Regions from separate parts of the Homo sapiens genome. Here regions 1 and 3 are each linked to region 2. Evidence: fine-mapped expression QTL. A gene starts in region 2. Each other region holds a variant in brackets. All regions are shown on one strand. Distances are between the middles of the regions.

Region 1 (10,493 bases), 74 kb after region 2:
GTCTTCAGTAGCTGCCTCTGAAGCCCCAAGTCCAGCATTGGCTCAACTGACCAGAAAGGTTATTAAATGGAAGACAGAGAAAAAGCAAGCAAAATGTACGTGACCATAGAATGACAGGATGGAAAATCCTTCAGTAAATTCATTGGTGAATGCATCCAAACATCAATTCTCACTTTACAAGCAGACAAAACGAAGGCCTGAAATAGTTAGGGGATCCTTCCAATACTTCACAGTGGAGCTTCACTAGAATCCGTTTTTTTCTGAGTCCTAATCCAGAGACTTTGAATATACATTATTTTTCTATCCATGGCAGTTTTTTCTCATAGACACATCACATAAGAGATGCTTCATGCATCCCCTTTTTGGCTTCTTACCAAAGGCCTTGTAAGTATTAAGACATTAACATTTCCTTTCTTTCTTCCTTCTTTGTAGGTAGCATATTTCAAGAGTAAAAACTGATTTCCAAGTCTCACTGAGGACCTGGCCTGATTCCTTGGGTGGGACAAGGAATTTCCATCTTTTAATGGATGCATTCAGATCCTCTAAACAAGTGGATGACCTTTAATTCATTAACTTTTTTAAATCATTAAGAAAAACATTGACATCAAAAAGAAAAAGATACAAACATGTCACTAAAAATGTACTGAAAATATCTAACTAATGTTAATAATATGTTTAATATAAACATATTAATATGTTAATAATTAATATGTTAATAATAATATGTTTAAATATTCATTACATTCTTAAATATTTAAATATTTCATTACATTCTTAAAACTGGGTACCTTTTTTAAAACATCTGTAAGCTTGGCAAGCCTTAGGAGGCCACTCATTCAACCCAGGGCTGGTGAAAGTGTGGAGACTTCAGGCACGCTTCTACACTTGGTGCCTCTGGAAAGCAATTTGGCAACAGACATCAAGACTTTGTCCAACTAATTCCGCTCTCAGAATGCATCCTAAGGAAATAATCAGAGAATTTGTCCAGCACAAAGGAAGCGATTAAACAAATGAGGACTTGGCCATACATGGGAAGTCTACATAGCCTTTGAAAACATTTTAAATTATTGACATGGAAAAATGCCCACTACATGTAAAGGGAATGAAGCATGTCACAAGCCAACATATATGGTAGAGTCTCACTGAGGTATACTTACATGTAGAAACCTATATCTATTATATATTATCAGAAGGAGTTGAAGAAGTATGCACCAAATTAGATGGTGAAATTATAGGTATGCTGGGGTACACGTGCAGGTTTGTTATATAGGTAAACTAGTGTCACGGGCGTTTTTCTTGTACGGATTATTTCATCACCCAGGTATTAAGCCTAGTGCCCAGCAGTTATTTGTTCTGCTCCTCTCCCTCCTCCCACCCTCCACCCTTAAGTAGGTCCCAATGTCTGTTGTTCCCCTCTTTGTGTTCGTGAGTTCTCATCATTTAGCTCCCATTTATAAGTGAGAACATGTGGTATTTGGTTTTCTGTTCCTGCATTAGTTTGCTAAGGACAGTGGCCACTTATTACTTACAGAATGAAACAATAAAAGCTCTAAAAATGTGTGTTAATCGCCATTGCTTAAGCCAGGAAGCAGGCTACTCTCCCCACTGTCCCCTCCTCAGGGCAGAACAGCAGTGCTGGAAGCCCTGTGCTGGCCTACGGTGTGAAGTCCCACTTCCCAGCCCAGGCACTGCATCTGGACTCTCGGAAAACCAGGGCCTTGGTTTCCTGGTTGGCACATGGATATCCCCATTCATACTATGCCCACCTTGCAGGGTGGAATCAGAAGTCAAGGAGAGAAAAGAATTATCTGTACATGGTGGCACATGCCTGTAGTCCCTGATACTTGGGAGGCTGAGGTGGGAGGATCCCTTGAGACCAGGAGTTCAAGGCTGCAGTGGAGCTATTGTTGAGCCACAGAACTCCAGCCTGGGTGACAGTGAGACCACATCTCTGAAAAACAAAAGAAAAAAAAGTGCCAGGCATCACATAAATACACCTCACGCTGTCACAATTCCTTAGTGAGAAAATAGGTGATTCAACAATATAAAATATAAACAGGATAACCAGAACAATCTATTCATAATCCAAATGCTAAAAATAACACTCAGCAAAGCCAATCTATGGAGAATTAGAATCACATGAAAGTCTGGAAAATGTGAACTAAAAGGAGGGCAGGAGGAATGGAAATTCTGTTAAGTATGCATGCTTTTGTTAGAAAATGATTTAAGAAAAAGAATTTTGCAAGAGCTCTTGTGGAAGGCTGTCCTGAGGCCTATAGGCTGCATGATGGTTACGGGCCGGCACTCTGGGATCAGAAGGACCAGGCTTGAAATCCTGGCCCTGTTCCTCCCTAGCTGGGTGACTTTGTTGAGAAAAGAGCCTCCCGAGCCTCAGTTTCCACATGTGTAAAATGAGGACTTTTCAGGGACATTGTGCAAATTAAATAAGGTAATGAATTAAAAGGGTCTTGTATGATGATTTGTAGTAGATATTTAATAAGTATTGGTTTTAGGCTGGGTGCAGTGGCTCACGCCTGTAATCCCAGCACGTTCGGATGCTGAGGAGGTGGATCACTTGAGGTCAGGCGTTCAAGACAAGCCTGGCCAACATGGTGAAATCCCGTCTCTACTAAAAACACAAAAATTAGCCAGGTGTGGTGGCATGTGCCTGTAGTCCCAGCTACTTGATAGGCTGAGGAAGGAGAATTGCTTGAACGCGGGAGGCAGAGGTTGCAGTGAGCCGAGATTGCGCCACTGTACTCCAGCCTGGGCGACAGAGTGAGACTTCTCCAAAAAAAAAAAAAAAAAAGGATTGGTTTTAAAATTATTATTAATACTACAGCACTTATTTCAAGACAAAATTATTTGATAACTTCTCAGGAGTACAGGACAACAGCAGCCCTGGAATAGGGGTCAGATGCTTTGTCAGAGCTGCTTTAATGCTGAGATCCCATCATCCTAGGACCTAAGTCATCTTCGAACTCATCTTTGAAAGAGAAATGAACAGTGCATTTATATCCATAATAATTGCAAGGGAAAGTCATCTTATTTTCTATTGTGTTTTGGATAGAATCTGAACTTCAAAAAAATTTCATCTTGTCAACTGGAAAAAACATTTCCAGTTCTCAGCACAATTCCCTCACTGGGAGAGTGGAACTGTTTCCTGCTGCTCGGTGGGGAGCTTACAGATGCTCGGTGGGGAGCTTACAGATGCTTCCCTCTTGTTTCCCCCGGGCATCATTTCAGAGAGTAGCAGAACTGGAGGCCATTCATCACCATGATCATCCAATGAGAAACACAATTAGATAGAAGTTGACTTTGCCTACTAGGTGGTGTCAGCATTGAAGAAACAAATGGGTAAAGCTAGGTTCAGAATCCTCTGTCCTGCGTCTGTGTTGCCAAAGGAAGTGTTAAGGTTCCTGCAAGAGGCTACTGCTGCTTTGCCCTTCTGAGGTGGAGACAGAGCCAGGCCAGGCTGGGGGTTCCTGGCCCTGCCCTGGCATGAGTCCAGGCCTGCCTGAGCCTGGTTTATATCACAGAAACAGCCCTTCGCTAGCCTCTCTGATTTTATGCTACTTGCCCTGCAACCCGTTTTTCGGAGAGCAGAAGACAGTAATATCCTAACTCTTTATCTCGTCCTTGGACCAGTAGTAACCTAACTCCTCCGGTCCTGGGGCTTGGATGACCTGGACTTCCACTCCCATACCAATTAAAGCTGCAACCCATTCCCACCCCCATGTCCTCATTTCCCAGCCCTAATGAACTTCTTTCTGCTCCTAGGATACACTCTGTTCCCTCTCAATTCAGTAGCTTTGAACTTGAGGGCCTCTGCCACATGACATTCCCTTAGTTCAGGTCTCTGCTTGTATGTCACCTTTAGAGGCTTTCCCTGACCATGTGGTTTCAAGAAAGCATCATGTCCCTATCACCTTACCTTGTTACCTCTGTAGCACAGGTCGCCTTCTGAAATGCCCCGTTCACATTTTTATGATGTTTTCTCTACTGGAATATAAGCTTCTAAAGAGAGGGGATGTGCCTGCCTTGCTGGCTGCACCAGCAACTCCTAGATGGGTGGAGATGCTCAGTGAAAACAGACTGAATCCCCTACAAGGTGCTTTGGTGCTGAATCACGCCACTTAGTGGATTGTATATCCTTTCTCCCTTCCCCAACTCTTGGTGATTAAAGCTTTGGTATCATGAGTGCTCTATGATTTCTGCAGGACTCGTCTGAAAGGTACTATTGCCAGAGGATGGGGTGGAGCCCTGAGGATGCGGTAGAAGCAGCGCGGGGGTTTCAGGAAGATCTAGAAACCCCTGGTCCTAGCCTGCTCTGCCTCTGTCTAGCTGCCTGGCCTTGAGTGAGTGACAGCAATCATGGATTTTAAACAGAATGTAGTCATATGCTAGAGAACTTCTGGCCCCCAAATCGTGTTTTAGTCTCTCCAATCTTTACTTTGGAAAAAGTAGAGGTGAGTTTTTGGACCCATCACCCTGAAATCTAGATCCTAGAGGATGATGACTTTCCACGGTTCTCACACTTTAGTGGGGAGACTCGCCCAGGGGCCTGTTAAAACAGATTGTCCTGGCCGGGCGCAGTGGCTCACACTTGTAAGCCCACCACTCTGAGAGGCCGAAGTGGGTGGATCACTTGAGGTCAGGAGTTCGAGACCAGCCTGGCCAACATGGTGAAACCCTATCTCTACTAAAAATACAAAAATTAGCCTGGCGTGGTGGCGCACGCCTGTAATCCCAGCTACTCAGGAGGCTGAGGCAGGAGAATTGCTTGAACCCGGGAGGCGGAGGTTGCAGTGAGCTGAGATCGCACCACTGCACTCTAGCCTGGGCGACAGAGCGAGACTCCGTCTCAAAAAACAAAGGCTCTGTCTAAACAAACAAACATTGTCCAGCTCCACCCCTGAAGTTTCTGATTCAGCACATCTGGGCAGGGCCCAGGGATCTGCATTTCTGGTCTGTTCCCAGGTGATGTGATGCCACTGGCCCAGGGACCACACTGTGGGGATCACTGATGTGGGCTGCGTCATCATAGCTTAGACATGTGTGTTGCCTTCACAAACAGTTTCAGATGCATTATCTGATTTGCTCTTCACAACCCTGAGAAGTGGATATTCTCAACCCTGATTTGCAGATGAGGAGACTGAGGTTTGCTGTGTTGCACAGAGCAAGGGTCTTGACTGCAACATCACACGGCAGGCTAGCCCTCCAGAGTATCTTAGAGGGGTAAATATCCCAGAGCTCAGTACACCCTACATCCCTGAAGTCCTCGCACTCTGCTGTGAGTGGCTGCAGGCACTTCCCTCAAGGGGTTTCCTTATCTGGCTTCTCCCTTCTCCGTAAATAGCAGAAGGCAGAGAGCTTGAGAGCTCCAGTTTTCCAGTTCAGGAAGGCGGTTTAACTTTCTGCTGTGCTCCTTGCTCCTTGTGTGACCCTGAACAAGTTACTTAACCTTTCTAAGCCACAGTTTTCTACTTATAAAATGGGGTAAGTGTCTGCTTTAGAGAGACATAAAGGTTCAATGAGAAGAATGTAGAAAATGAGCTTAGCCCTGCTTTCACACGAACACAAAAGCGATTACACAATAATCCTTTACAAGGACACCACCCTGACTTTTCTAAAACATTGATCTGTTCATAGCACTTCAGAGTTTACCAAGTAGTTTTTTTTTTCATTTCTCATTTGATAATTACAACAACTTAAAATTCCACTTAAGCTCCTCCACCCTTTGTCTATAGGATTAACCGTCTAAGATTCTTAGCAAGGCATTAAGAGCGCTCTTGAGATCTAGCCCCTGCCTCCATCCTCCATCTCGTTTCCCCAGGGATGGGACGGAAGCTTCCCTCCTCATCTTCCCAGCAAGACAGCTGGCACTTAATGGGGAGTGAAGGAAACCTGCGCTGCAGCTTCCGCTGTGCTCTTTCCTCTTTTGTTCATTCGTGCCTTGCCCTTCCTCTCCCTTCTTATCCATCTAATTCCTACTTGTTTCAAGGCGGCCCAAGTGCACACCTTCTGCAATGGCCCCTATGTTTTCTTCATCCAATAAATGTTTATTGCCTGCCTGTGTGTGCCAGGAACGAGGTGCAAGGGCTACAGCAGTGAATGTGGTTGAATGTTTTGCTGCAGCCAGAGGCGTGGTTTATGGTGGTACT[C/T]ATCACACAGGGCTGTAATTGCCGGGTCAGCCCCCCAGTCTTTAGTGCCTTGCTAAGAATCTTGGACTTTTCACTGTCAGATTACAGTTAAGCCCCATGGGCAGAAAGCACAGCTCCTTCATTTCTGTGCTCTGCTCAGTGAGTGCAATTAATATCTGTGAAAGTAAGTCCAACAAGCTTTTTATGCCTTTTCCTTGTTATACATTTCACTTATCTGGTTAAACCTGACATTATGGCGATTTCTAATCTTCCCAGTATTTACATTCTTATGTTGACATATTAAAAATGGAATGAGAATGTGCTTATTGAAAATAATTGCAGTTTCAAAATTAACCATCCACTTCGAAGATTATTCACACTGCAAGAGCTCATTCATTCTGTAGTCCCTGAGCTAATACCTCTAAAAAGAGGCCAAAGGGGCCTTCAAGACCTCCCTTGGTTTCCTTATAAGCCAAAAACAAAAAACAAACAAGAAAACCCAAGAAACAAAACATATAAATAAGCAAAACATATTGTATTGATACCTACCTTGTCATTAAATATCAAAAACCTCAAATACAACTTTACTACACTATGCATAACTGTGCCTTTTGCCAACTTGCTGATACATTTACTCTCTTAATAAAATTTAGAACAGCAATGCCTTGTTTGCTCAGCACTGCTAAGCAATAGTTCCTCCCTATAAGCAAACTTTTCAGATAACTCAAGGTCCCTGAGAACGCCATTTTTTTCTGAACAACTTCCCCTCAATTGTACGAACCTTAATTTGTATCAAACACAATCCTTAATAGTATGTAATGAACACAATCTAAATCATCCTAGATCTCACTTACTGCATACCACACATCACATTGACCTGTAACACAGTTTATTGGCAATCACAGGCATGGCATCACTGACGTCAGGTATATTTTTACTGCTCTCTTGATTAACTCCTCTTGCTTCTACTTCTCCTTGCTGTTAAGCTCTACTTACACTTTACTCTTTTACTATACACACTTTTCTGAGATAAAGGGCAAGAAATGTCTATTTGATAGAGTATATGGACAAATAGAACTTTGCCACTTATGGGCAAGTTTAATGTTCAGTTCAAGACAGCCAAGGGTGCTGAGAGTCTGACCTCTGAAAAAGTGGGGTGGAGTAATCTTTATCTTTTTCCATATAAATAATAAATAATGAGTATCCAGAGAGAATTTTCAGAAGAATGTGTTTTAGCAAGATAGGTCTAACTCCTTGCTCCTTTTATGTAAAGATCTCTAAATAGTCCCTCTCAGATTTCCTAATGTACTAATGTGGGCTAAACTTCATGAACAGAACACAGAACCTCCAGGTTCAGTGGCTTAGAAACAATGGCATTTCAAAAGTTTCTCTCTTATGTATAGTCAAGCGGAATTTTCCAAGCTGACCAGCAACTCTGCTCCACAGCGGCATTCAGGGACCCAGGTTCCTTCTCTCTCATGGCTCTGCCATGATGGGCACCTACTGGGACAAGGTCACTACCTTCTCTGGGTTCCACCTGTGGGAAGGGGACAGAGGAGGTGAGGGGGACTCACCCATGGTCTTAAGGGTCCTGGCCCAATAGCGGAATACACCCTTCAACTTACATCCCCTGGGAGAATGAGTCAGCTGGCTACAGGTAACAGCAAGAGGGGCTGAGAAATGCAGTCCCCAGCAAGCAGCACATGCCCAGCTACAACTCTACACAATGGAACAGGAGAATGGATTCTGCTGGACAACTAGCAGTCTTCAGGGAGAAAGTCTTTTCTTATTTCTATTTTATAGAAGCACTGTAAAATTGCTATACAATTATCTTATTTCAAGCTAATCCAATAGGAAAAAAATCAGACTTACACAAACGTTTTAAAGAACTATATTTTAGAGCTGAAATAAGCCTGAGAGATCATTTGGTCAGTGGACACTCTGTGACCAGCAGACATTATTTCATCGACTTGTTCCTATCAGTCTTCCACAGACGAACAGGGACTTATCTTGCTCATTGCTGATCCCACCACTTAGAACAGTTTCTGACACATAGGAAGTGATTAACAAATCTTTGTTGATAAAAAATAGTTGAAAACATGTAACAATGTAGAGATATTACATTATTTTGTAAATTTATCTCCTCCTCTGCTGAGTTACCAGGAGTGGCAGGATATATTTTGATGGCCTAATTATAGCAAGTTTCTTTCACTTTATGTAACATGAATATAAACTCTAAATACTGGCCAAAGTCCACAAGAAAATCTGGACAAGCGTATCAGTGACACTTGGTCTTTACACTTATTCTAAAGGAAAACCTAATAAGGGTCTGGCCTATCCTGTGCCTTCATTAGATTTTTTTAAAACCAAAGCACTGTCTTGAACTTGACTCCCAGATGTGAAAAATATTTTGTGTGACATTCAAAACACTTGTAAAATGCAAATACCTTCATTTGCTGAGAAATATTAAATGGTCTATAATCAAGGCCGAGCCTATTTTTTCCAAAGACAAAATTAAACATTTTGCCACCATTAAGACCAAAGCAATAATTCAAATTAAGATAGCTCTATCACTTGTGAATTACAAATAAATACTTATTATACAGTGGGAAATTCACTCTACCAAATACAATAGTAAATATTAAAATAAATTCAGTGACCTTTTTAAAAAAGATTACAAAACTGAATTTATTGAGATTCACACAAGATGCACTTATAAAATTAGTACTGAATGCCATTAAAACAGAAGAAATGAACATAATCCCGAACTCCCAACAGCATCTGCAAAGGAATGGAAATCTTCTGAAAATGACAGCGCAGTAACAGAATAATTCAAGCGGAACTGAAGATCTATCCAAACCATGTTCCTGCTCTGAAATCAGGGTTGTGTTTGGCAAAGCTTTCCCCAAACTATTCCATTCACGGTGGCATTGTTCCTTTTGTTGGTAAAGGGAGATGGAAAAAATAATTCTAAAATGGGGCTCCATTAAAACACACACAAAGCAATTAAAACCTTTTTCATTTTTAACTTAAAATACTTCCTGGTTTCACAAAGGCATGTCCATACAATTTCCTCAACATTAATCTTCAGATTTCTTTAGTTAATGCAAAACATTAAAATTCACTTACTTTTTTGTATTTCAAATGAACAAGTCAGAACATTAAAGCTTGCTTTATATTTCATCCAAGAAACAGACAAATCACCTAAAAATTGCTTTCTGCCTATGTATGTACGCCTGAAACATTTGCATGAGAGCTAAACTTCAAAATCAAAACATCAAAGGAAATAACAGTTAACAGTACCATCTTCTGGACAGTTCTGACACCAGAAGTTGTAGAAGTTTTACAGAAATGCAAACACGGTTGTCAAGATAAAATGGGGTGGGAAATAACTTCTATGATATAGACCACAAACTAGTAATTAAGCGGAAACACAATCTTCATCTCAAATAAAACCAAAAAGCACCTTTTGGTTGCTGTTCCCAACAGCCATACACAGATGCCTCCCCACACCAACAGCCACCCATACGCCTCAAACACCCCATTTACTTTCACACAAAATCCTCTCCAGACCCAGGCCTGCCCCATCCCCAGCACAGGCCCACCCTGATAGTCACATCCCCACAGACACCCTCCCACAGAACACACACCCTGCCCCAGCACAGGCACACTCGCTGTCGACCCAAACACAAAGACTAATGCATTTGGTAAGCCCAAGCAAGATGATGCTGTCTAACACACTTGGAGCATTTACTTTACAGTTAAAGTTGACAGTTTTGAATTTTGTACATTGACAATTTTTCAGCCTGTTCAACATCGAATCCTTTTAGCTGTAATAATTTATGAAGTAATTAGTTTTAAAGCAAAATCAGTTAAGTATACCTTAAAGTTAACACTGCTCTGCTTCCTTGGTGTAAAAAGTGCCCTTTTGTAAGGAAATTTGTTTTATCCACCAATTAAATGACATACAGCTCACATTTTGCTTTAAAGAGTAAACTGAAAAATTATGAAGGATTTTTCCCAGTAATGCATAGCCTTCATTAATTATTTTTTTAATAAATAAACTAGTTTAGCATTTTTTTTTAACCCTACAAAATGCTACTATTCATCATGTCTTATTTAAGGTAGCCTTTTATTCTGATTAATTAAGATACATCTTTAAGGGTTATTCTGGTGGTAAGAACATTTATCTTGACTTATGTTTAATTTTTTTAATGCTTTGGCAGATGAAGTAACGTTTGAAAACTGTTTGTGAAAATAGTATGAGACTGGAAAGATTACGTCGTGGTAAAAGTTTCACAGTTTTCCAGGTATTTCCTTATACTGAAGAGGCCTTGAGGCAAATTCAAC
Region 2 (10,493 bases):
CACGTAGTCGGTGTTTAGTAAGTGCCTGCTGAGCAGCTTGTTTCACTCATGGCACCATCCCTGGCAGGGAAAGAAATAGCAGCAGAGTCACCAATGCATGTAACCTGCCTGCAGCAAGAAGTGCCCCAGACAGGAGGCTGCAAAGCTTTAGAGCAGGGCCTTCAGCCTAATCCAGGTAGGTGGGTGGAAACCAAACACAGCCTGCTCCAGAGCTACAGGGCAAGTGCTGGCGTAGAAGCCAAAATATGTTATTTCCTTGTGCGGTTTCATGAGACTAGGCAAATCAGCACAGAACCTGGAAGGATCCCAAGTGTACCACTCTTCCTCTCTGTATTAAGTGTCCTGGAGCAAGAGCAAGCTGCTGTCACTTTGTGAGCTAGATACATACTTACTAACTTTCAAGATAAGTACAGGGTGCTCCTGAAACACATACTGTAAGAAAGGGAAGGGGGATGATGAAGAAGGTGACATACTTTGCAAGAAGCCAGAGGACCCACTACCAATATTCCAAGTCAAAGAAAGCTTTGGACAACAGATGGGATTTCTTGAGCTATTTGAACAAAGATGTTAATTCATATCTAATCCCTCCATTGCCTCATCTTCTAAGTCCTGTCCCACTCCAATTACTCCTGCACAAAGCTACCAATACAAGGGCCCCAAATTCTTCCTTTGTCAAATCATGGGCTGCTCAGATCCCAAGTGGCTGCCAGTACTAACCTCAGGCCCACGCTTCAGGTTACGCCCACCGTCACATCCACAATAGACACCTTGACCCTGGTGTTTCCAAAGGGCTCCCTTCAAACATCTACTGCAAGCACAACACACCACATGTACACTTTATCTTGGTTTTTTTTTTTGCTAAAGGACAGGCAGAGAGCTAAGCCTCCAGCACAGCAGCTGGAAGGATTAAAGGCTCAGATGCTGAGAAGGCCCACTTTCTGGTAATTCCACCAAACCTCAGCCCAGGACAGAGAGAAACTGCCAAGGGAAGAACTATGAACAAACAGGCTCTCCAACTCCCTCAGTGACAAAGCAGGGGAAGGGAAATTCCCAGTGAAGTGAAACATAACTGCTCACCGCAGCAAAGATGGGAGACAATGACTTGAGATAGACAGCAACTGCAGTTGCACTTCCAGATTTCTTTACATCTTGCTCCAAAATGTAGGTCCCTCTGAAGTTTTAAAGTACATTTTAAGAAAGTATTAATATCTCACTAACTATGAAATACTAGAAACTGATTAAAGTCAAGTCAAAGAGGAAGAGTTTTTTATCTCGGGTTTAATAGGTTGTGCCAAAAACAGAAGCTCTGAGTATTTACCAGCTAAACCCCACTAGGTCCGAGAGCCACTGAGAGTAGCATCTGTCTCGGGATAAAATGGGGTGTTTAGTTGAAATGCAGACTATTAATGGACCTAATTTCTGGGATGAAACCCATTAATCTGCATTTTTAACAAGCTTTCCTGGGGACTGATCCTTCAAACAAAGTTTGAGAACAGTTCTGTTCCTGGAGTACTCTGATCCTGGAGTACCCGCCTAGTCAATTCATGTCACTTTCCAAGGACACTTCAGGCTTCCCAAACACATTGGAAAATAACACATGTAAGGTGAAAGCTCCCCAAATGCCCTTTTCATATTGCTTTGAATTGATCTACCCCAGCTGCTGTGCAGGTCCCTGGCTTATTTCTGTATCCCCAGAGCCTGGAACACAGTTGGTACTCAATGAAGAATTGCTACCAGCCTGGGCAACATAGAGAGGCCCTGTCTCTACAAAAAAAAAAAAAAAAAAAAAAAAAATTTAAATTAGCAAACGTAGTGGTGCACAACTGTAGTCCCAGCTACTCGGAAGTCTGAAGCAGGAGGATTACTTGAGTCCAGGAAGCTGAGCCTGTAGTGAGCCATAATCATACCACTGCACTCCAGCCTGGGCGACCTTACATGATTTTGAGCCTGGAGTCCAGAGAACTGCATTTCAATACTGGTTTAAAAGCAAATATGGCCCGGGCGTGGTGGCTCAAGCCTGTAATCCCAGCATTTTGGGAGGCCGAGGCGGGCGGATCACGAGGTCAGGAGATCGAGACCATCCTGGCTAACATGGTGAAACCCTGTCTCTACTAAAAATACAAAAAAAATTAGCCAGGTGTGGTGGTGCACACCTGTAGTCCCAGCTACTCGGGAGGCTGAGGCAGGAGAATCACTTGAACCCGGGAGGCGGAGGTTGCAGTGACCTGAGATCATGCCACTGCACTCCAGCCTGGGTGACAGAGACTCCATCTCAAAAAAAAAAATTAAAAATGAAAAAGCAAATATGGTGATCAATCACCTTCATTTCTTCTTTTCTTCTTTTGATGGAACTTCTCAGAATCTTTCTTTTTAAAGAAGAGCTTTGTAGTGGATTTTTGTCATCTGGAGTGCTTTTGGCGGGGGCATGGGGGATACCCAACATCTGAGACCACGTTTGTGAGCTGGGTGGGAGGCAGCCCTGCCTTGCATTGTGAGGTCAGCTGAGGCGCCCAAACTGTGTCCTGGTGGAGCTGAGCCATGCTGGGCCAATCAGAAGCTTTCTTCTGGGCCTGGGCCTGCGCACTCTGAAGCAGGACAGTATCTAATTCATTCCAGCAATGATGGCAGCAATGCCAGTAGCCACATCCAGGGTCCTGTTCTGGCAGCCGCAGCCACCCACCCATCAGGGGTCCTGTGGCATGTCCTAGATTCCTAAGCCTGGCTAGCCAGCCTTGCTGCCACTTACCTAAGCCACCCAGGGACCATCCTTTCAAGAAGTCCTTTTATATATATACATATACATATATATATGTATATGTATATATATTTTTTTATTATACTTTAAGTTCTAGGGTACATGTGCACAATGTGCATGTTTGTTACATGTGTATACATGTGCCATGTCGGTGTGCTGCACCTATTAACTCGTCATTTACATTAGGTATATGTCCTAATGCTATCCCTCCCCACTCCCGCCACCTGACAACAGGCCCCGGTGTGTGATGTTCCCCTTCCTGTGTCCAAGTGTTTTCATTGTTCAATTCCCAACAAACGGTGCTGGGAAACCTGGCTAGCCATATGTAGAAAGCTGAAACTGGATCCCTTCCTTACACCTTATACAAAAATTAATTCAAGATGGATTAAAAACTTAAATGTTAGACCTAAAACCATAAAAACCCTAGAAGAAAACCTAGGCAATACCATTCAGGACATAGGCATGGGCAAGGACTTCATGTCTAAAACACCAAAAGCAATGGCAACAAAAGCCAAAATTGACAAATGGGATCTAATTAAACTAAAGAGCTTCTGCAGAGCAAAAGAAACTACCATCAGAGTGAACAGGCAACTTACAGAATCCAAGAAGTCCTTTATCTGATAAAAATTACCCCCGACTCAGCTTCCACTGTTTTAACAAAGTATCTTGACCCTTAACAAATCTCAGAAATAGCTCTTTGCTCCCTGAAAAACCTATTTCCTTTATATTTTAAACAGTACCAACTTGGTTTAAAGTTTTCAGCTTGTCCTCTGATGCATTTGTTCACCTCATTGTACTAAAACACAAAGAAACTGTCTCGTATAAAAATCAGAAGGAAGTTTAGAAATCAGAAAGAAGTTTAGAAAAGTTTAGAAATCAGAAGGAAGTTTAGAAAAAAATTATGGAACACATGAAAAAAAAAACAAGAATAAACTAAAGGGCACTGCTGAATAGACAGACAACAGCAACAGTAAGGGGGCTCTGGTCCCCCTTACTAACTCTGCCAAGATGACAGTTGTTTGAATTCTCCAACCCTTCTTCTGCTCCTCTGTCAAAGGAGGATTTCGCATAGGGTTCGCAGGCTAGCGATCTAATAGGTAAAGCACCTGGCACGCAGCTGGAAGGCTATCTGGGGTCTGTCTGCTTCTGCTAGCATCAATACTCTGAGCTCAACTCCACCGGGGCTCCTAGGATAACCGGGACAGAAAGGACGGTGAGAAAAGAAAAATGAGTAACATCACACAAGTTGAATCATATGAGGTTGACGATATTCACATCTTCCATCCAAAAAACCGACAATTTCTTATGATTCAACCCAACATATCGCAGCGGTTGTTCGTGTCGCATGAGTCTCGGGGGGCACTCAAGAACTACGATCGTGCACTTGCTTTCTTAACAAAGAACAGCTGCCGCCCTCAGGAACTCCAGCAAACCTTTCTCCAGAAAGGTCAGTCGCCTTAGCGGGCTCCAGGAGCAACCTGTTGCAGAATGAAGCCTGGGGCGCCGGCTTCCCCGCCCTTTACCTCCAAACCACCTCCAGGCCAAGCCCCCTCCAGGCCTAGCTCCCTTCTGGGCGGAAGCCTCTCGCGAGCTGCGGGACACAAAAGAATGAGCGGCGGGGCGGGCGCGGGAAGCCAAGAGACTCCAGGAATTCGCAGCCGCGCAGGGGAGGGGGTTGCCGGAGTAACTTGGCTGCTCTGAGCGCGTCGGCGCCAGTTCCCCGCCGCGGCCCCTGTTGGGCACCGATCGGGGGCGATCTTGCCAGAGAGAAGGGGTTCTGGAGCTAGTTCCTCCCTCCGATCCGACTCCCTGCCCCTCCAGACACGGGCTTTCGGGGAAACTGATCCCGAGCCTCTGACTTTCTACAGCCGTGAAGCTCCTGGTCTGTCCACGCTCCTCTTTGTTGTCCGGTCGGCGTGTTCTGGCAGGGTGCGCCTTGAGCACCCCAGTTCTCCATCTAGCGATAGCCGCGGGTCCCCGCGCATGCAAGCAGAAGGGCCGTGGAGCGAGAGGCTGGGAAGGTGCTTCAAGCCAGGGGTGCATGCTTTCTCCCACGGACGCGGGGAGATGGCCTCGCTTTGTACCCCCATATCCCTACTCCCGCTGTGGTCGGCTGCACAGTGTTGGCCCATTTCCGCACTCAGCCAGGGAAGCTCAGCGCCTCACGTCCCCGGGGCCATCCCTAGAGTTTCCTTTACCGCAGACTCGTTCCCAAGACCCTGGCGAGTCTCACCTCGGTCACCGTTCTCCCCGAGAGCGAGTCCGAAGTCTCTGGGGCCCCGGTCCAGTTCGCACACTCACCTCCGACTCCCGCTCCGGAACCACGGCCGCCGGCTACCCCCACCCCCGCCCCCATCCCCAGTGGATGGAAAGAAGACCCAAGCGGGGCGTCGCGGGCCACCACTCAGACTAAAAAGTTTGGGTTGGACGGGCACCGGCACCACCACGCTCTCCCCGCAGTTCCTCTGGCCCCCAGCCGCTGTCCGGGCCCGCACCACCTGCTGAGGGGCCAGGGAGGCGGCGCAGATGGCTAGGGTAAGGGGGGCGCAGAGCGAACCCGTCCACTCCTCACTGTACACCCCCAGTACAGTGGAAGGAGTGCGCTCAGCCCCGCGCCTGGTCAGCAGATGCCTCTCTCGCTCCGGGATGAGGACCCAGCTACTCACCGTGCACCCGGCTCCCGCTCCTGCTCCCGCCCTAGTCACCGCTGCCGCCGCCCTTCCCTTAGCTCGCCAGACCCTGGCTCGTGAATTATTTATGACCCGGCTTCTGGGACCACCGCGACGGCTTTCGGAGAGCCCGCCTCCCACTGCCGGCCGCGGAGGGGCTCAGGCGGCGCTGCGGCCGGACCCTCGGACGTGGCGGGAGGCAGGAGAAAGGCCCGGGTGCCCGGGGGGACCCGTTGCGGCTTCCTCTGTCCCGGACGGGGACCTAGGTATGGGGCCGCCGTAATGGAAAGGATTCCTTAAACATACTCACCGCGGCGGGAGAGCTGAGAGCATGGCCAGGTGCCGCGTGGGGATCTGCCTCAGTCACTTAAAGATCGCGAAACCCGAGCCCTGGACGCACTCTGATTGGACCGGCTGAGCTGCTTCGCCACGTAGCCCTGGGGCGCCCACCAGCACCTGGACAGCATCCATTTCCTGTAGAGGTGCCTGCTCAACCCCCTGCACTCCCTTCTTGCAACGCTTGCGCCTCTTTTCCCCCCGCAGAGTCCCTTACTTAGAATGCAGCTACCCTCCTAAAAACTCTCCTGTCTCATCCCGGCCGCATTAGACCCTTCTGTTGCCTAATCCCAATGCAATTTAAAACAAAACAAAACAAAACAAAACAAAACAAAAAACAAAAAAACAATCATTTGGATCCTTAGTGTGCAGCAGTACCAATGCTAGTGGCTGAAGCGGTTGAAAAACAGCATAAAGCCATATTCGCTCCCATGTGTACACACAGGCATCTGCTATAACGTGAAGCCACTGCAACTTCTTTTCTCACTGCCTATTGGTCTTCCCGCTCTGTGAGTTACAACTCAACCTCGGAGTCTTCACCTTGCTACTTAGCTGAGTGGTGGAAACCTGTCAGAAGTAATCACTCGGTGTCTAAGTGTCCTCACCAATTTGCACTTCACTCTTATTCACCACTTCTTATCTTGAATTGAGAATACTGTACTCTCCGGCAGGCAAAAAAAAGACTTAGGGAAGAAATGCACCTTCAGGATGGTGTCTAGCATACAGCAGGTGTTTAATACATGTTTGTGATATGGATAGACAGATGAAAGGATGGATGCACAAGCTACAAATGAATGATAGACAGGAACATTAAGTCAGTACCTTTTTCTTTTTACCCCAGAATCTAACATAAAACAGGTACTGGAAAATAAGCATTTTTTGTTTTTAATAGTTAGATTGATCTTGAGTGTGTATATTTCTAGACAAGAAATGTTAGTTCAGAAAACTTCCAAAAAGTACAGTAGGACATGGCAAGGTTAGATGGTTTGGCTCTGTGTCCCCATCCAAATCTCATATTGAATTATAATTCACTGGGAGAGGGACCTAGTGGGAGGTGATTGGATTATGAGGGCGGATTTCTCCCTTGCTGTTCTCATGATAGTGAGTGAGTTCTCAGGATATCTGATGATTTAAAAGTGTGTGGCACTTCCCCTTTGCTCGCTCTGTCTCTCCTTCTGCCATGTGAAGATGTGCTTGCTTTCCCTTCTTCCACCATAATTGTAAGTTTCCTGAAGCCTCTCTGGCCATGCCTACGGTACAGCCTCTGAAACCCAGTCTCAGGTAGTTCTTTATAGCAATGTGAGATCAAACTAATATGGGTGGAAAACAAATCTCTTCTAATCAGGGCAGATTTCCCCTCTGCAGCCCCTGCAGGTCAGAAGTTTCTGGTTGAACATCTGCTGGGGTCCCATAAACCTTCTCCTAGATAGCACTTTTAGGCTGGAGCTAGCAAAAGAGGTGATTTCTCAAAGGAGTGGGTCCTGATCTCCGTCAAAGTTTGGTCCCGCCTCTTTTAATCGCTGTGACTTTGGCTGCTTAATATTTCTCTGAGCCTCAGTTTCCTGGTCTGCAAAATGAAGACAATTATAACTCACAGGGCTCATTTTCATTCCTAATAATATCAACAACAATAGTATCAGTAGAAAGGGGTGAAGCAAGATGGTCAAATAGAAGGTTTGACCACCCACCCCCCACCCCGGCTAGGAACACAATTTAACTGCTATCTACACACACAAAAAGCACCTTTATAAGAACCAAAAATCAGGTGAGTAACCACAATACCTGGTTTTAATTTCATATTACTGAAAGAGGCACTGAAGAAGCCAGGAAAGACAGTTTTGATTTGCCAATGCCGCCAGTCCTCCATCCCCCAGCAGCAGCAGCCTTGTGGCTTGGGAAAGGGAGAGTGCAGTGATTGGGAGACTTTGAATTGAACTCAGTACTGCTCTGTCATAGCAGAAAGCAAAACTAGGCTGAACTCAGCCAATTTCCCTCAGAGGAAATAGCCCATACCAGTGGTGAAAACTTGAGTTTCAGTAAAGTGCTCTGGGGCCCCAAATAACCTTAAAGGCAGCCTAGGCCACAAGGACAGCAACTCCTAAGCAAGCCCAAATGCTGAGCTCAGAGCCAGTAGACTTGGAGGGCATGCGACTTACTGAGACACCAGACAGGGGAGCTAAGGGAGTGCTTGTGACACCCCTACCCCAACCCCAGGTAGTGCTGTTAGTGGCTCTTCATCACTGCATGCCCTTTTCTAGCACTCATGCCTCTTTTACCCCAGCAGAGCTCTCTACTTGGAATGCAGCTACCCTCCTAAAAATGCTCCTCTCTCAAAAACTCTCAGCCACATTAGACCCTTCTGTTGCCTAATCCCAATGCAGTTAAAAAAACAAAACAAAAATAATCATTTGGATCCTTAGTGTCTGCATCAGTCCCAATGCTAGTGGCTGGAGTGATTAAAAACAGCACGAAGAGACCCATTCCTTCTGCTTGAAGAGAAGAGGGGGAAGAGTAAAGAGGACTTTGTTATCTTGAATATCAGTTTAGCCACAGTAGGACAGGGCATCAGTCTGAGTCATCAGACCCCCATCCCAGGTCCTAACTTGTGGATAACATTTCTAGACACATCCTGGGCCAGAAGGGAAACTGCTGCCTTGAAGGGAAAGAAACAGTCTGGGCAGGACCCATCACCTGTTGGCTAAAGAGCCCTTGGGTTCTCAATAGCCAGAAGCAATACTCAGGTAGTACACTGTGGTTCTTGGGTGTGACTCTGAGATCTGCTGGTTTCAGGTGAGACCCAGTATATTCCCAACTGTGGTGGCTAATGTGAGAGACTCCTTCTGCTTGACAAAAGCAGAAGGAAAAGTAAAGAGGATGTTTTCCTTCCCCTTAGGTACCAGCTCAGCCACAGGGAGGTAGAGTACTAAGCAGGCTCTTGGGGTGGTCTTCAATGCCCAGACACCAATGAATATCCAAAAGCTTCCAGACCACCCAGGAAAACATGACCTCACCAAACAAACTAAATAAGTCCCCAGGGAACAACCCTGGAGAAATAGAGATATGTGATGTTTCAGACAGAGAATTCAAAATCAATATCTTGAAGAAACTCAGAGAAAATTAAGATAACACAGAAAAAGAATTCAGAATTCTATCAGATAAATTTAATAGAGATATTGAAATAATTTTAAAGAATCAAGCAGAAATTCTCAAGTTTAAAAATGCAACTGACATACTGAAGAATGCATCAGAGTCTTTCAATAGCAGAATTGATTAAGGAGAAGAAATAGTGCACTTTTAAAGACAGGCTATTAGAAAATACAGTCAGAGAAGACAAAGAAAAAAGAATAAAAAATAATGAAGCATGCCTACAAGATCTAGAAAATTACCTAAAAAAGCAAATCTAAGAGTTACTGGCCTTAAAGACAAGGTCGAGAAAGAGATGGGGTAGAAAGATTATTCAAAGGGATAATATCAGAGAACCACTCAAACCTATAGAAAAGTATCAATATCCAAATACAAGAATTGTATAGAACACCTAGCAGATAAACCCAAAGATGACTACTCCAAGGCATGCAATAATCAAATTCCCAGAGGTCTAGGATAAAGGATCCTAAAAGCAGCAAAAGAAAAGAAAGAATTAACAAACAATGGAGCTGCAATACATCTGGCAGCAGACTATTCAGTGGAAACCTGACAGCCCAGGAGAGAGTGGCGTGACATACTTAAGCTGCTGGAGGGAAAAAACTTTTACCCTAGAATAATATATACAGCAAAAATATTCTTCAAACATGAAGGAGAAATAAAGACTTTCTCAGACAAACAAAAGCAGAGGGATTTCATCAACACCAGACCTGTCCTACAAGAAATGCTACAAGGAGTTATTCAATCTGAAAGAAAAGGATGTTAACAAGCAATAAGAAATCATCTGAAGATATAAAACTCCCTGGTAATCGTAAGTACACAGAAAAACACCGAATGTTATAACACTGTAACTGTGGTGTGTAAACTACTCTTATCTTAAGTAGAAAGACTAAATGATGAACCAATCAAAAATAATAACTACGACAACTTGTCAAGACATAGACAGCACAATAAAATATAAGGAGAAACAACAAAGAGTTTAGAAGCAAGGGGAGGAAGTTAAGGTGTAGAGCTCTTATTAGTTTTCTTTGTTTATGTAATCAGTGTTAAGTAATTACTAACATAAAATAGTGGGTTATAAGAAGATAGTATTTGCAAGGCTCACGAGAACTTCAAGTCAAAGAAACACAATGAATACACAAAAATAAAAAGCAAGCTATTAAATCATACCACCAGAGAAAATTACCTTTGCTAAAAGGCAGACAGGGAGAAATGAAAGAAGGAAGAGAAGACCCCAAAACAACCAAAAAGCAAATAAAGAGCAGGAGTAAGTCCTTACTTATCAATAATAATATTGAATTAAATGGACTAAACTCTGCAATCAAAAGACATAGAGTGGGCGAATGGATTAAAAAATAAGACCCATTGGTCTATTGCCTACAATAAACATATGTGACCTATAATGACACAAATAGACTGAAAATAAGGAACATAAAAAGATATTCCAAGCCAATGGAAACCAAAAAAAGAGCCGGAGTAGCTATATTTATATCAGACAAAACAGACTTCAAAACAAAAACTATCAGAAGAGACAAAGGTCATCATATAATGAGAAAAGGCTCAATTCAGTAAGAGGATCTAACAATTGTAAA
Region 3 (10,493 bases), 49 kb before region 2:
AATCTTTTTTCCACAACCTTGTAGCCTCCCATTCAGGAATTGGCAATCACGTCCTAGTATAAAATGAACTTTGAAAATAGCCAGCTTCCTGAAAATGACTGGAATTCAATTCACCATGGGAATTATTAGCAAGACTGGCTTATCATACTCAGAAACTTAGAAACATACAAAGGAAGTCAAGTCATGGTTTTTTTTTTTCCTTCCATAACCTTTATGAGAAATGCAGCGGTGACAAGCAAAAAGAAAGAAAGGAGAAGAAAGTTGGCTTTTTCTGGAGTAAGACACATCTGCTTAACAGTCTACAGTGAGGGGTGGAAATTCGATCTTGTGCTGATGGTCAAACAGACTGCATAAACATATGTCAGTGTCTACGGAATTCTCACATTCCACAGCTGCCTCTGGGAACCCTCAGAGAAAGAACATGCCCACGTAGATTGCACATCTGCTAGGGCATCTTTCTCCTTAACACCTATGTCTTCCCTTCACCCCCTAAAGAAAAGATTTACATTTTTTAAAATAAAAAAGGATGCTCAAAACTAACTTGAAAACCAACTGCATTTAATTGTAATATTTTGAGCCACAAAATGAAATTGAGTCCAATAAAAGGCAGGTGGACTGCTCTGGGTTTCTGAAAGAATTTTTTAAAAATCACATGCAAAGATTATTTCTCAATAGTGTCCCATCTCCGCTGAAGTCAATGTCAGCTAGAGGCCCTGCATTAAACAAGAGAGAGTCCACTCTCCTATCTTTCCCTCCACTTCCTTTCTTTCCCTTTCTGCCTTCCAATTTTGTTGACATTCTTGTCCTTCTTATTTTTATCTAATCTTCTGATTTTGTTGACATTCTTTCTTCTCCTGTCTAACTACTCATAATAGAGAAATCTTAACTTTCCCCAGGTCTTTAATCCTCCTGCCTAGCTTGGATTACTTGCAAACAATATGTAGGTATTATGCAACTCATGATGTTTAAGGTATTTGCAAACCAGTGGGGGTTTCAAAAGGAAGCCATTAAAATAGCTACCGTAAATCAAAAAGTTCAAGGCAAAGAAGCTTAAATTCTCATCAGAATTTAAAGTGAGAAAAAAAAATTCACACACTACTCTTATTTAAGCCTATTTATAATTTATACATAAATTCAATGTGCTATATGAAATCAAATTAGTTTTAGTTTTGTCACAATCTCAGTTGATCAATTTTGGTTTAATTATATTGAAATCTAAAATTACAATTTTCACATTAATGTTTTACTTGGGTGGGGAAAAAAATTGTTTTAACTGAATGTGTAGGAGGGTATAGAATCACAGCATGCATTTTTAAAAAGAATTTTCTAAATTAAAATATACTTAGAAAAAACATATATTGATTTGATAGGTCTGAGTTCTCAAGAATTAACAAAACGGTAGCTTTCATTTTATATATAAATGGAAGCCAAGTTTATTTTTTACTTTGTAGCTTTATTGTTGATATATTTTGGCATTTTCAACATAATGTAAATAACTCAATCAGCTGAGAGTGAACTATAACATGCATAACACATAACTATATGTAATGCAAATAAAAGTTCAATTTTGAAAAAGAAACCCATTGTAGTGGCTAGGCACGGTGGCTCACACCTGTAATCCTAGCACTTTGGGAGGTCGAGGAGGGCAGATCATTTGAGGCCAGGAGTTTGAGACCAGCCTGGCCAACATGGTGAAACCCCGTCTCTACTAAAAATACAAAAATCTGCCGGGCCTGGTGGCGCATGCTTGTAATCCCAGCTACTAGGAAGGCTGAGGCACAAGAATGACTTGAACCCGGGAGGCGGAGGTTGGAGTGAGCTGTGATAGCGCCACTGCACTCCAACCTGGGTGACACAGCGAGATTCTGTCTCAAAAAAACAAAGAAACCCAATATATTGGAAACCGATTATTACACATGTAAACACTTATTCAGGTAAATAAATAACTACATTCAATAAAGAATTTTCCTGAAATTATACTATATGTATTGACATCAAGTGAAAATTATTAACTTGTTAAATAAGTAATCATTCTAACTAGAAGCCCTAAGGGCAATATTTTCAGATGATGCTTTCACATCCGAGTCTCATCTTTGAGGTCCAGGGTGTATGGAGCGGGTAAACATGGCTGTGCAAGTGTCTAGACAAATGTGGCGTGTAAGTTTCAGGCTTACAGGAAACACACCAGGGATCCCTGGTGGGTTTGACAGGTTTCAGGGCTGTAACCGAGATTCTTCTGGTAGCTGAAAAAGAGGTAACTACCCCTATAACTAGGAGTCTGTGCATTCCTTAGAGTATATCAAATACAAAGCAGAGAGAGACAGGGACATTTGGAATGACCACTACTGACCTGATCCCAAACTGCCTCTCAAAATCAAATGTGAAAAAAATAGCAAGGATCAAATGATTTTTGGAGACACAGAGAAAGAGACAGACAGTGACAGAAAAATACAGAGAGGCAAGGAGAGACAGAAAAGGGAAGAAAAGAGAGAGAGAGAGGGAGAGAGAGATTGACAGGCAGAGATGCCCACACCCCAATGTCATGGAGACAAAACAAGTAACTCTCAGGCTAACCAACAATGCATGAAGTCAGCTAACACATTCACTTGGATCTTGTTTACACACATATATAGTTAAGGTCGATTATTCCACTATTATGAGCAAAAGTATGTCTTTGCTTAAATAGTCACTGCCCTGGAGTAAGTGGTAATGCATTGGCCTTTGTCTGTTGTGAAGATTTTTTTTGTCACTGTTCAAGTTTCAGTTAAGTTAATTCAATAGGTAATACCCGAGCCTGGTACATAATCAAAAGAGACAAAAAGCCCAGCTACAGCAAGAAATGAGTTTCCTTCCTTCCCCTCCACAACCCTCAATTTCCTTTCCAGAGGCAACCACTGTTGCCAGTTTCTTGTCAACCCTTTCACATCCCATCTGCTCTATAAAAATATGACCCAGTGCTTGTGTCTCCTTCCTGATCTTTTTTTTTTTTAACATAGTTACCATGTTCTACACATGGTCTGCAACCTGCTTTTTCACTTCATCTGTCATGGTGACTGGTATCAACAAATCCAGAGCTGCCCAGTCCTCTTCAATGGGTACACTGCATTCCAATGAGTGGTCACCCTAAGCCATACACATCTTATCAGACCCCTGCTGGTGGCCACACTTAAAGGCTTTCCTTCTTGGGTTTGCAGCTAGAACTCCAACTCACAGGACTTACTGTTTTCTGTTAAAATTCCTGAATATCACTTCCTTAGTAAAACTTGAAAAAAATCTTACGGCTACTGAGCACGTGTGGTGTTTGGAGAAACAACAAAGAGAATGCTGTTGGCCAACCCTTGCTGTGCCTTCATGTCATAGGCACATTGATTTCTGCTGCTGCATGAAACAGTGGCGGAATGAATGAGGAAATGTGGAACAATAACCAAGCAACATAACAAGGGAACACTGCTGTGGCGCACTCATCTTCAGATGAGCAATCTAATTTGGACTCGAAAAAACGTCATCTTAAAAGCAATGTATTTCTGATCTGCCAGTCAACTGGAAAACTTTTGAAAGCAGCAGACACTGCAGCAGAAATACCCTAAATCGTGAAGTGTGTTCCAGACTTAAGGGAGGGTAGCGGATTAACAGCACATAAAAGAAAAATGAGTTTATTATTAGAAAGTCAATTGCATTCTACAATATTTTCAAATTTCCAAATTCAGGGACTGCATCAGTCCATCAAGATTCCTTTGGACTCAACTAGCAAATCAACTTGCAGATCCATCTCTCTTTTCTGCATGCTGCCTGCCTGCAAATAGCTAATTAAGAGGAGTCTGCTGTGCTGGGAGGTAAGTCCTTTCTGCAGTCCAAGATTTCTCAGGATACCTTCAAGAGGAAAAAAATACCAAAGGGCTGGCTCATCAGCTCAGCTGGGGCAGCTTCATTACAACGCTAATGTCTGATGATAATGAGATCCTTTCGAATCACTCTAGACAAGCGCTTGTGCTCTCTCTTTTCTGTTTGGTGGGTTTTTTTTTCATTGTTGCTATTTTGTTTAGTTTTAAACTCATGGTTTAACCATAAAAATGTGAGACACTCTTCATCAGCCTAAAACACAATCAGTTGTTGTCCAATATTGTACTTGCCTTATTATTATACAAATCACCAACAGGGAGATTGCAAAGCATTTCCTCAGGAAGGGCCCATTTTCCTTCTGTCGCTGGTGCATTTCTCCACCACATTTGTTACAGCAACGACACATACAAAAGAAATACCCCACCAGAGGCATCAGAATAATAAACAGCAGCCCCAGGACACAGCATAGAATAATCCCTGCTTCATAGTAGACAATCTGCAATTCAAACAAAAGAAACAGCACATATTGTAGCACAAAATAATAAGTAGAACATTCCATGGTGTACAAAGTTCTTTTTTTTTTTTTTTTTTTTTGAGACAGGGTCTCGCTCTGTTGCCCAGGCTGGAGCGCAGTGGCGCGATTTCGGCTCACTGCAACCTCTGCCTCCTGGGTTCAAGCGATTCTTGGGCCTCAGCCTCCCGAGTACTGTATTTTTAGTAGAGACAGGGTTTCACCATGTTGTCCAGGCTGGTCTTGAACTCCTGGCCTCAAGCAATCTACCTGCCTCAGCCTCCCAAAGTGCTGGGATTACAGGTGTAAGCCACCGCACCTGGCCATGTTTCATTTTTTTAACCTATCTGCCATCATTAGTTGAATCTGAATGTGTACATATATATATATATATATGTATGTATTTTTTTCCATTTTGAAACTCCTTTTTGAAACAGAGGAAGCAGAGAATTGAGTAATTAAATACATGGCCAAGTGGTTACTGGAAGATGTCTTTCAACCCCTAGGAAGATGTCTAAATGCTAGTTTGAGCTGCAAATGGTTTAATTTTAACCCCAAAGGTATTTTGTTTGTTTTTAAATGGATCAATAAATCTTGGCAGGAGTACTTGCATAACAATCTACATATAAGGCGCTTTGCACACTGCA[A/C]AAATAGAAGTTAAAGATTCAAAGCACTTTGGATTGGCTGGCAAACAATTACTCAAGAATCTGGAATGTATCTTAATTTAGAAAAAAGGCTCAGACTCTAAGTCAGGCACGTTAAACACAGGCCAGTCACAAGGTTCCTCCTCTGATACACTGGAAATAATAATACGTACCTTGTCAAGTCATTGTGAAAATTAGAGATAACGCATGATTAGAAATAATGTGACAAAGGACCAAGCACTGAGTAGACACTTACTAAAGGTGCCTCTCATGCCATGCCCAGGAGCCAGATCCACAGTGAAGGACCGACCTTGGCAGTCCGTGTCTCAGACGGTTCCTGAGTTCCTAGGAACAGCACAATTTCTAGATACAATCATGTGACCTAAACATATTTTCATAATCACTGCTGACTTTATTCCGGGATAAACGAAAATTAATGCAACTAGATGATGAAACTTGATGTCATTCCAATTCATGCATGTAGCTGCTTATATTTCTAAAGAATGGCAGAAAATTGCAAGTTGGCAGTTTGCAACTAAATGGACAATCTAGACAGCTGCGAATTCTGAAGCCAAGCTGAGCAAAGGAAAATAAAACACGAGTCTTGTTCCTGGGAGCAAATGTGATGTCTTGGAGGAGAGACCTGCTTTACATCCCAGCAGGGGGCTTCCAGGTCCCTAAAGTGGATGGTGTCACATTAGCATTAACTTCATAAACATATTGTGAGGGACAAATAACTAAATGACTGAATGTGAAAACAACTAGCCAAGTGCCCAGCACACAGTAGATATTCAATAAATGGTAGTTAACTCTATGAGCAAATGCTCAAGACTAGTAAATCTGGTGCATCTGGCACTTGAATATTATCTACTTCCATATTAAGATTAAATTGCTTAAAAAAAAGAGTGGCTGAATCTTGCTGGGTTCATCAAGTATGTGCTCACGCTTAAGCTAACCCCCATCCCATGTCCACGAAGAGGCATTATTAGGGGACTTAACCCTTCCTCGAGGACCAATACCACTTGTCAGTTAAGAAACCAGCCCAGACATTCCAAACTCTTACTTACGTATTTTTCCATCATTTCTCAGCAAATATTCTAAATTGTTTACTATTTTAAAGAAATGTAAATTCTATCTGAATTCCAGGAGACACTGAACCAAAACCCAGGAGAGAAGATATATTGAAATGTTTTAAATGCACTAATTTTAGCTTTAAATACAAATTGTACATTTGATAACACAGCCTTTCTAATGTTACTGACTAAATATCAGGCAGTATCAGGAACAAGATACGGCATTTCAAGAGTTCACTTCTAGGCCGACTAGACGAAGGCCTGTCACTACTTAAACTGTTTTTTGATACACCAAGATCTTCCAGTGCTTTGTTGATTGTGTTGAAGATCAACATGTAAATATTACAGAGATATCTTTCTTCAAAGAGAAGGTTAAAAGTGATGGTAAAAACAGAAATGAAACGGATCATTTAAAAATCTTCACAGTGAGGATGACAGTGAAGAACAGAAAGGCTTTCCAAGAGCAACTTGAAATAGCAGACAAGGACTTTACCTTTAGACCTAAGATTACAGTTTCTGGCTGTAGAAGTCAACGCAGGTGAGGAATTTTGGCAGAGGCAGCATGCATCAAGAAAACAGACAGAAAAAGTTATGAGTGATCAACCATAACCAAGAACATTCATATCCCACAAGGAGGAAATTGGGTGATAGAAGGATAAACATGAGAAAGGAATATAAAACTTGAGTGTGAATTCAAGAAACAGTGTTTTAAGTTGCTCTGAGTTCTGAAATTTACATTTGCATTTACATTTGGATTTCCCAAAAGGTTCTTAATCCGTATGCTAATCGGTTACGCAAAGGAGAATTAGAGGGGAAGTTACAAATGCTTAACACACTAACCATGTGATCTTCATAAAATAGAGAATCAGATCTGAGAACTCCAGAACCAACGGCAGCATCTTCCCAAGTGCCCTTTTCTAAAATAAAAATCTGATGGTGTTATTCCCATGCTTAAAGCGATCAACGGATTCCCACCATTTTTATTCCAAACATCTCAATGTTTGATTTTAAATGTCCTTTCGTGGCAAAATAAAATTAGGTGGCTCTATGTCATTTTCTAGATCACTTTTTTGAAATATTCTGGTCCAGGAAATCTAAAAGTGTAGAAACTATTGCCTCAGCTGGCAGATCTTCACAGCTCTGAGGGAACACCATTTGTGATGGGAATCACTTTTAAATGAGGCATCCAAAATACTGGGACTGGGGGGCAGTTCAGATATACCTGCCTCTGGGGTCACACAGGGCATTTTAAATGATCCCGGTCTCCCTTTCTTGGGGAAGGGGCACGCAGGCTTGTTACCAACCAGGGCACAAGCTCCCAAGCTCACCAGACACAAAGAAGCACCTCACAGTGTGTGTTAAAGAAAAACATTGACTCCTGGGCTCCTCTGCTACAGCACATGAGTCAGAAGATATGGGTAAGACCAGGAATCTGTGTTCCCTGAGCCTCCCAAATAAACGACTTGCCCTGGAGTCATTGGTGTAGGGTCTGCTTCAGGGGGAACCAACCCAACACACTCAGCCTTTATCAGACTAAATCTAGTCAGAAAGCCCTCCTCTAGATGTGGCCTGGATCCTTTGGTGCCTTTGTTTAATTAACCTCTTTCTTTGGATAATGGTAGAAAGCATGGTCCAGTTCCACATCTAGAGTAGGAATCAGCTCATTCATGTGGGCTCAGTTCTGCATCTTCTCTCCACTGCACCCCCACCCAGAGTTTTTATTCATTTGCAAAGGCAAGGAAAGAGAGCAGGAGCCAGGGGTATAAACCAAGGTTATGGGAGTGCCAAATCTAATACCAAGTCAAGCACAAAGACCCTGCCAGGGACGGTGGCAGCCCAGCTCCAGCTCAGACTCACAGGTTCCTCAAGGCCACCTAAGGGTCTCAGGACCTCGTTCTCCAAGTCCCGGATCCCACTGAAGCACTGCCCCTACTCTCATTCCTTGGTTGGCATTCGGGCTGGCTAAGCATGTTATGCTAATTTTGAATATAAATATAAAAGCAACTGTCATTTTCTTCCCCCCAGAGATACAGGCCGACGTGACAATCACATTGGGAGATATAAATGAAGCCTGTGGCACTGAGGAATGAAAATGCTTTCCACGGTGCTGGGGAAGGCTGTGAGCCCTGGGAACAGCTCAGTTCATCTTCCACACAGTCTTCCCTTGCTGAATGTAAACAGCCTCTAGATAAGGCTTTCCTCTTCTGCATTTACTTTTCTCTTGAGTATAATTTTCTTGCAAGTTAAGAATATGATGAGGCCATTTGTAACTACCGTATCTGAGGTAACGATTCACTGGGCAAAAGGGAACTGCCTTCTCCCATGCCGGAAACACTAGCATTCAGATTTGTTGTGCAGGCCAGTAAAAAACGTCCACCTATACATCTGCTTACTGGTAGCCCGATAACCGCCTTCAAACCAGGAAAGGAAGGAACAAAGTGCTTTACTTACCGAGAAGGACTGAGAACCTGGCCAACACATTTAACTAATTTTTATTACCTTACATTCAGTGCTACACACTTTTGTCTGTTTGCTTCATGGGCAACCTACAGTCATAACACACCAAAATCGAAAGACCATTCTCCTGTTTAGGTAGGCAGTCGCAGAGGAGTGCATTGGCAGCAACTTGGGTAATAAGCAGAAAAATGCAAGGAGCCTTGATACTTTCTGAAAATACTATGGATTCACTCAAGAGAGGCGTTCAAGGCCCTCCCAGGATCAGGCCCCAACTTACCTTTTTTTCTCTCCCTCTGGCCAGGGGCCTGCTTCTTTCATACCTTGACCTCTTTGCTCACATGTTCTGAAGCCTGGAATGTGAGAAGAGCGCCCACCCATCCCACCGGCTCTGCCCTTGTATGATCCTTGTTACATTAACTAGATAAGGTCCCTGCTATCTGTCTTCTAGCCTCTTGAGACCAAAGGCTATCATCCTTATCTCCACCTTCCTTCATTTCTAGCCATGTCCTCACACAGCAGGAGCTTCATAAACCTTATACAAATGCAAAGCTACTTTTTAACAAACGATGTTTTATAACAGAGTACACAGTCACCATCTCTAGGAATTTTCAAACAATTCTACTTAATGAGGGAGTTCTCATCCCTCAGCTAAAAGAAAAGTAGCGTAATATTTCTTTTTGAAGAAATTTTAGTTTTTATTTATTTATTTGTTTATTTATTTTGAGATGGAGTCTCACTCTGTCACCCAGGCTGGAGTACAATGGCACCATCTCGGCTCACTGCAACCTCTGCCTCCTGGGTTCAAGCGATTCTCCTGCCTCAGCCTCCCGAATACTTGGGACTACAGGCGAGTGCCACCACGCCCGGCTAATTTTTGTATTTTTAGTAGGGATGGAGTTTCACCATATTGGCCAGGCTGGTCTCAGACTCCTGACCTGGTGATCTGCCCGCCTCAGCCTACCAAAGTGCTGGGATTACAGGCGTGAGCCACCACACCCGGCCTTAGTTTTTAATTTTTAAGTAACATACAACTTGAAAGGTTTTCTTCAAATGCCGCTTTTGAACTTTCTGCTATGGTTCAAATGGGATTTGTAAGGTGGTTCAATATTCCATGAAAGTTCTTAGTCAAAAAAGATTACTAAAATTGCAGATTGAATAACTGGTTATTTAAAGATTTACTTTCAAGTCAGCCAAAATTTTTCTCATACTTCGTATTTTTAATAATAAATACACCAATGAAAAATTACCTTGTCATAATCAATTTTGGATTCATATGCCTTCTGTAAGAATTTTCTCAAAGTATCTGGAAAAAAAGCCACAAAATAGCAATATTATTTTTTCAGTAAAATTATAAAATGCATATTTAGAAAAAGATCTTTATATGCTTAAAAATTATTATACCTATATTTCTATTATTCTTATAATTTTATTCTTATTTCTTAATGTAGGTAAATAATTAATGACCTCTAGCCAGAAGCCAAGAATAGAAGACAAATACTTCTGATTTACTATTTTGTCAGTGACAGAATTAGAGAGTTGTCATTTTTAAGTTAGTAATTTATCATAATACACCTTAATATTTACCAGCAAACCGCATACAGCTTATTAATAATCATTTATAAAAATTTTGCTGAAATTGCTAATTCTTAATTGTCTGGAAACACAAATGAAATTTATTGTTCAATAATTCCACATTTGCCTGATATTAATATTTTACAAAGGAATGGATGAAAGGAATCTTAAAATTAACTCAACCCGGCAGGATGCCGTGGCTCACACCCGTAATCCCAGCACTTTGGGACACAGAGGCAGGTGGATCACCCGAGGCCAGGAGTTCAAGACCAGCCTGCTCAACATGGTGAAACTCCGTCTCTACTAAAAATACAAAAATTAGCCAGGCGTGGTGGCGCATGCCTGTAATCCCAGCTACTTGGGAGGCTGAGATGGGAGGATCACTTGAACCCGGGA

Direction of the effects. Alleles are on the strand shown, and positions count from the first base shown. SD is a standard deviation of normalised expression in the study named.
In carriers of allele C in region 1, the expression in transverse colon of the gene that starts at base 5,780 in region 2 tends to be lower than with T alone (small effect, 0.17 SD a copy in GTEx).
With allele A in place of C in region 3, the expression in tibial artery of the gene that starts at base 5,780 in region 2 is higher (moderate effect, 0.74 SD a copy in GTEx).

Evidence for each region. PIP is the estimated chance that this variant, and not a neighbour inherited with it, causes the effect.
Region 1: its variant is fine-mapped to the expression of PROM1 in transverse colon (GTEx, PIP 0.93).
Region 3: its variant is fine-mapped to the expression of PROM1 in tibial artery (GTEx, PIP above 0.99).

The regions. Positions count from the first base shown.
Region 1 is chr4:16,152,487-16,162,979 of GRCh38, forward strand. It overlaps TAPT1 (transmembrane anterior posterior transformation 1), which reads right to left. Exons shown (of 14, transcript NM_153365.3): 14 at 8,019-10,493. Among named protein-coding and RNA genes, the nearest start is that of TAPT1, 69 kb to the right of the region's middle. The variant C/T (reference allele first, on the strand shown) is at 6,165.
Region 2 is chr4:16,078,244-16,088,736 of GRCh38, forward strand. PROM1 (prominin 1) reads right to left here and starts at 5,780. Exons shown (of 28, transcript NM_006017.3): 1 at 5,735-5,780. RefSeq lists an enhancer at 966-1,055.
Region 3 is chr4:16,029,174-16,039,666 of GRCh38, forward strand. PROM1 (prominin 1) reads right to left here. Exons shown (of 28, transcript NM_006017.3): 3 at 9,773-9,828; 4 at 6,562-6,588; 5 at 4,131-4,336. Among named protein-coding and RNA genes, the nearest start is that of PROM1, 50 kb to the right of the region's middle. The variant A/C (reference allele first, on the strand shown) is at 4,999.